Homo sapiens: one gene and its partner. The protein of the gene in region 2 purifies or fractionates together with the protein of the main gene of each other region. This does not show direct contact. Each region holds a gene or a part of one and is shown on either strand. Other genes may lie near its edges.

Region 1 (3,500 bases), on a different chromosome or scaffold from region 2:
ACAGCCTTCCTTCCTTCCTAGGCTGCAGGAGAATAAGCCAGGCCCCCAGGAGTCCTTCCCCTGAATAAAACCCTGCAGCCGTCCACTGTGGCATCACATGTGCCTCACTTACAAAAGCCAAGTGCAGCAAATGCAAGATAATATAGTTTTGTAGCCCAAGAAGGGCTATAACTTACCCAAGATAACACAGCAAGTAAAAGATGAGCTGGGAACGGAGCCCAGGTCCCCTGATCTCCAGACTCAAGCTCTTCAAAGACTTACATCCTGCTTCCTATTAACAGCACTACCAAAAACACCGAGCACAGTAGATCATGCCTGTAATCCCTTTGGGAGGCCAAGGCTGGAGGATCACTTGAGGCCAGGAGTTTGAGAGCAGCCTGATCAATATGGTGAAATCCTATCTCTACTAAAAATACAAAAATTAGCCTGGTGTGGTGGTGCATGCCTGAAATTCCAGCTACTCAGGAGGCTGAGACACGAGAATCACTTGAACCCGGGAGGTGGAGGTTGCAGTGAGCCAAGATTGCACCACTGCACTCCAGCCTCAGCAATACAGTGAGACTCTGTCTCAAAAAAAAATAAAAATAAAAATAAAACACTACCAAAAGCAGCAGGAACATATATAGCACTAACTATGTGCCAGGCGCTGTCTTAAATGCTTCATATGCATTAGCTCATATATCATTCTCAAACAACCCTATGAGATGAGTACTATTATTGTCTCCATTTTATAGATGCTGAAACTGATGCACAGAGCGGTAAGACACAAAGTCACGCCTAGCTGGTAAGTAGCAGAGGCGGGAATCATCCTTAGGCAATTTGATTCCAGAGTCTGTGATCTTGCCCAGGCTTTCTTCCCCACTCCCCCAGGCCCAAGCCCAGCTGGGACTCAGGAAGGCTTCTGGAACACTTGCTGCCTAAAAGGAAGAAAACCTGCCTAGAAGTCACCTCTCTGGCCAAGGTCATGCTGTAGCTCCATGGCAGAGCCAGGATTTGAACCCGGGCTTCCTAATGCCCAACTACCAGGGCATTGTTCACTTCTCCACATTGACACTGAGAGCCAAGGCCCAGAACTCTGAACAACTCCCACACCAGATCACCCTTCCACACAGCAGGGAAAGTCAAGTTGCGGGGTGGGGCGGCGGAGAAGAGGCAAAAGCTTCTGCTGCAGGGTAGGAGGTCAGAGGGGAGAGTGGGGCTTCCCAGAGCTGCCCACCTGGGGGTCTGCATGGATGATGTCCAGGATGGGCTTCCTGGAGGCCACCGTCCCATTTCTCCAGGCCCCAGCTTGAGTCCCCACAGGATAGCAGCACCTTCCACAAACAATTGTTGACTCCAAGATGCTCTTTCTGGCTGAGTCAGAGTTCACTAAAGGCCAGAGTGGCCCCTTCCTGGGTTAGGACTGAAGGAAGTCATGCTGTTCCCCTCTCAGGAGGGTAATAAAGGCCAGGCATCGGAAGAGAAGCAGAAGCTCTGCTGAAAGCAATTCCAGGACAGACGGTGCATTCCCATCTCCCTGGATCCAGGTTGCAGAAGTGCGGCCCACAGGCCTGAAGCACCAGGCAGTGGCATCCAGGTCCTGCTTCCCGGCTCCACTTTGCCAAGGAGTCACCTGGTATGTGGTACCAAGCTAGGTACTGCTGATACCCCCGGCCTCACCCAAGAGAACCACTAACCTATTCATTCAGTCATCGATCCCCAAGTGCCTGCTGTATGCCAGGAATCAGAGATACAGACAGGACAGGGCAGTGCCTGCCCAGGAGAGCTCATGGAAACACATCATACACCACAAAGTGGCAGGATCAAAGAGGAGGGTACACAGTGTAGACAAGCACAGAGGAGAAGGTGAAGGGCAATGAGGGGCTTGGGAAAGGCAGCCAAGCACAGAGGAGAAGGTGAAGGGCAATGAGGGGCTTGGGAAAGGCAGCCAGAGATGTTCAGACCTACTGCCCCTCAGGAAGCTGAGCGTCACAGTGAGGAGACCCAGCCACCCCCAGGAAGAGCCAGAGAGCCCCACATAGCCAGACATGACTGGCGTCTTGGGGCACACACATATTGGAGAGGCACAGAGGCCCTGTGCAGAAGGAAGGTGTTCTGGGAGTGTCCCTGGGGGCCTGAGAAGGAGCCTGGCACCAGCCTTGAAAGACCAACCAGATACAGCAAACAACAATGGCTCTCCTTTATTGAGCATTTACTATGTGCTAGGTATAACAATACTAAGCATTTCATGTGCACTTTTTTGTCTTCTCCTCATGACCTATGAAGTCATGACCATTATTATCCCCATTTGCAGGTTCAAAAACTGAGGCTCAGAAAGAGTCACGTAGCCAGAAATTGGCAGGGCCGAGATCTCAACTCTAAAGTCCAGTGCTTTACCGCCATGCTGTACCATCATCTCCCTAATCTGTTAACAGGCAGAAAGAAGATAAAGGTGCTTCAGGTGGGGGAAACAAGGTAAAAATAGGGAGGTAGGATCAAGTGCTCTTTGAGGGGAGCTGCCCAGCTCCTCTGTGTTGGGGTTGTATTTGTGTGTGTGCGCATGCCTGAGTATGGGTGGGTGTTCACAGACATGCCCTACTTTGCAAAGGATAGATCCCAGGTCCCAGAACTCCCCGAGAGCCAAGGAAAGAATGGGGCATCAGCAAGTCAGGGAAGGAATCCCAGAGAGAAGGAACTTATCTAAGGTCACACAACATACACACAGCAGAGCAGCAGCCAACTCCAAGGACCAGAACACAGGTCTCTTTCCTCCATCAGCTGCCTGTCCATGTCAGCACAGTGAATCAGCTGCTGACAGGAAAACCACAGTGGAAGGGGAAGCCCGGGGGTGAGTCAGGAACCAGCCAGCCTCCGAGAGACACCAGCTGGGCCTGTTGCAGAGGCCCCGGGTCTGTGGTTGTCTGCCTCTTCTTAGGGCAGCATCAGGGGCGAGGGGAGCAACACATCCCACACCACTCACTCCATGTTTACCTCTGGGCTTCCCCTCCCAGCTCCTCAGACCCCGGCTTAGTGGAGGGGAAGCGGGTGGGTAGGGCAGTTCCTGCTGAGATTAAACGGGTCCTGTCCCACAGAGGGGCCCAGGCCAAACAGTCCAGGCTCTTCCCTCCCTTCCCACCTCTCACAGAGCCAGCTCCTGGCCGTTTGATGTTCTTGATTAAGTCATAACCGCCCCCTGTGAGCTTCCCATGGGGCAGAGGAAGTGGGTATAACGGTTTGGAGCAGAAGGCCAAGGCCAAGGTCAAGCCAGAATCAGGGGTGCCAGCTGGCCCCAGATGCTCCGAATCTGAAACAACACTCAGAACTTGGGGCTGCTCAGCCATGGGTTGAGGGAGGACTGTCTGGTCCTTAGGGGAACAGGTTTGGGTCCCCAGGGTGGAAGGGGATGGCCGGTGGGAGCTTCCAGGCTGTGGCTCTAAAGCGTGAGGCCTCAAGACAGAGGGGGCCGCCCCCACATAGCGGAAACTTCAGAGGAGCCCAGGGAAGCCAAAATCCTGCCCCAG
Region 2 (2,801 bases):
TGGAGCCCACTTGAAAGAGGATTCTAATTATGCTGCCCAAGCTGTGGCCACATGGAGGAGAGATATACAGTCCCTGCTGAACCCTGCTCTAATTACAGGTTTGTGAGCAAAACTACTAATTGTTAACTAAATTTTGGGGTGGCTCATTACACAGCAACATCTGGTTTTCTCGGTGGATTCAATCCAATGTGCTTGGGTCTCCCCTCCTAGTGCATGGCAGATGGTGGGGGCCATGGGAACTTCCCTCTCTCACTGCTCTCCCTTAACTTTTGTTCTGGTGGCTGGTGACCTCCACGGGGCTTAGAGATCAACTGTGGTCAGTGATTAGGGTGGCCCTGGGCCTCTATGGGGGTTAGGTATTGGGAAAGGTCACAAAGGGTGGGGCCCATGTAGCCCCCACAAGAACAGAACAGAACAGAACAAGCCCTGGCCTCTCAGCTACCCATTGGCATAGCTTCCATTCCTTCCACTTGCATACAGGGAGACTTGAAAACCAGTGGTGGCGAGACTCCAAGACTATTATTTTTATTTCCGGACAAAAACATCTGCTTCACACAGTGCACGGCATCAAATGAAGAGGAAAGAACTTGTATCCCAAAGCCTGGCTTTCTGTATCATCCACAAATTAAGACAGCATCTGCTGAGCCCATGCTGAGCCTGTCACAGTCAACAACTGGGAAACCGGGGCCTCTACTGAACCAGGGGACAAGTAGCCGAAGCACTTAAACAGCTTGATACTTGTTTTTTGGTACATTTGTTTATTTAAAGCACAGGAAATGAATAAAATGCCACCTAAAAAGTATCTGCAATGAATAAATTATTTCCAGTGAAGCACTGCAGATCCACACACACCAGTCTGCTAACCTTTACCAAGGCCATGTCCGGTGGGCTTGTGCTTGTTCCAGTTGACTCTTCCTTGAGACCTTTCCCTTCTGTGCAATGACCACAGCATTAGAGACCAGTCCTGCATGCGCTGGCCTTCCTCGTAGGCATGGCAGACCACGTGGATGAGCAGTGGGCTGGCATGCAGTAGGCTTCAACAAATGGCACTTCACTGTTTCCAGTGACCCTGAAATGTTTTACGTAAGTGGGGCCTGGGCTTTAAAGAAAAGAGCCAGGGTTCCTCAGGCTGGGCCCCTTCACTGAGGCACAGCTCCAGGAAATACTGGTCTCAGGAGCCAGCAACTTGTCCAGGAGTTTTGAGCCCTCAGTTGAAGGAAAATGGCCACGTGGTGTCCTTGCAGGCAACAGTGATGTCGGTGATGGTGACAAGTAGCCAGCCTAAGGAAGGCCAATCCCACCTTGGGTGGAATGCAGGGCACCTAGTCCTGCTTGGAAGGGGCTGGGAGGTTGGGGAATGTCGAGAATGGAGGGCTAGGGCTCCACACAGTGAATTCAAATAAGGGCTCTTCAGTGAGGGAAGGAAGCCGCAGCCCTCCTTTGGCCCTTTATGCAGGGTCAGCATCTCGGCTCACAAGGCCAAGGGTCACTGGGCAGGAACCAGACTTTCAGAAGGGAAAGGTGCCATAGGCAACGCCAAGGGCATGACTTAAATATCCTATCCTCTGGAAAGTGTTCAAGAGGTCTTGCAGTACACGCCATTTAGGAGACTATAAAATTCCTTTCATTTATGCCATGTGAACAAGTTGAGGCGGTGCATTTCCAAGGTGAATTCATTGAATACAATGAAGTACATTTATTTTTTGAAGGAAGTTTTTGCCGCAGAAATATTGAACTTGGGACTGTGCTGACAAGCTATAACATAATCCCTCTCCTTCCAGATCAGAGCAGGGGTGAGGAAGCAAAAGTCCACAGTTACTGGGCAGGTAATTGGTATAAATGAGGGTGTGGGGCTGGATGCGGTGGCTCACATCTGTAATCCCAGCACTTTGGGAGGCCGAGGCAGGAGGATTGCTTGAGCCCAGGAGGTTGAGACCAGCCTGGGCAACATGGTGAAACCCTGTCTCTACAAAAAATACAAAATTAGCTGGGCATGGTGGTTTGTGCCAGTGATCCCAGCTATTTGGGAGGCTGAGGTGGGAGAATTGCTTGAGCCCAGGAGGCAGAGGTTGCAGTGAGCCGAGATTGCGCCACTGCACTCCAGCCTAGGCAACAGAATGAGATCCTGTCTCACATTAAAAAAAAAAAGAAAAAGAAAAAGAAAAAAAAGAAAAAGGGTAATGTGAGCACACATTGGTCTCATGGTCTACTCACCTGATTAGAGATTAATCCCAGTCTTTCTTTTTCATTACAATAAATGCAACCTGCAGGGGCATTGATCAGTAGAAACAAACACTCAGCCTCATTGTGGGAAGTGATAGGGCGTAGTGTGGGCTGTGGTGACCTGGTGAAGTGGACACCCCTTCTAAAGGCAGAGCTGGTGCCCAGCTCCAGCCAGTTGTTGCTAGGTGAGAATGTGAGCCCCAGCATGGCCAGATCTTCTGATCTGGGTTTTTTTTTAAGTGTTAGAGTCCGCAAGCTAAACAAAACATCCCTGTGCGCCAGATCATTTTGTAGCCTCTCCTGTGGGAGTCAGTGGCAGGAAGGTGTGGTAGGCAGAATAACAGCACCCCAAAGATGTTCTGGTCCTAATCCCCACCTGTGGCTATGTTGTCTTGCATGGCAAAAGGCTCTTCCAGGATGATGAAGGAACTTTAGATGGAGAGATTATCCTGGATCTTCCTGGTGGGCTTTGTAAGTCAAAGAGGGAAGTGGGAGGGCCAGTGTCACAGTGATGCCATGTGAGAAAAGCTTGACCAGCCACTGGAGCCTGGGAATGCAGCCAGCCTCTAGAAGCTTGA

The links. Proteins that work in one complex are often made in the same cells at the same time.
Region 1: the proteins of CDCP1 (region 2) and CD82 purify together in Homo sapiens (affinity purification with western blotting; one study listed by BioGRID). This does not show direct contact.

What each region holds. Positions count from the first base shown.
Region 1 is NC_000011.10:44,568,663-44,572,162, reverse strand, and holds part of CD82 (CD82 antigen), read right to left. Parts: intron 1-3,500. UniProt on the Homo sapiens protein: Structural component of specialized membrane microdomains known as tetraspanin-enriched microdomains (TERMs), which act as platforms for receptor clustering and signaling.
Region 2 is NC_000003.12:45,081,777-45,084,577, forward strand, and holds the end of CDCP1 (CUB domain-containing protein 1 isoform 1 precursor), read right to left. Parts: 3' UTR 501-2,801; downstream 1-500. UniProt on the Homo sapiens protein: May be involved in cell adhesion and cell matrix association. May play a role in the regulation of anchorage versus migration or proliferation versus differentiation via its phosphorylation.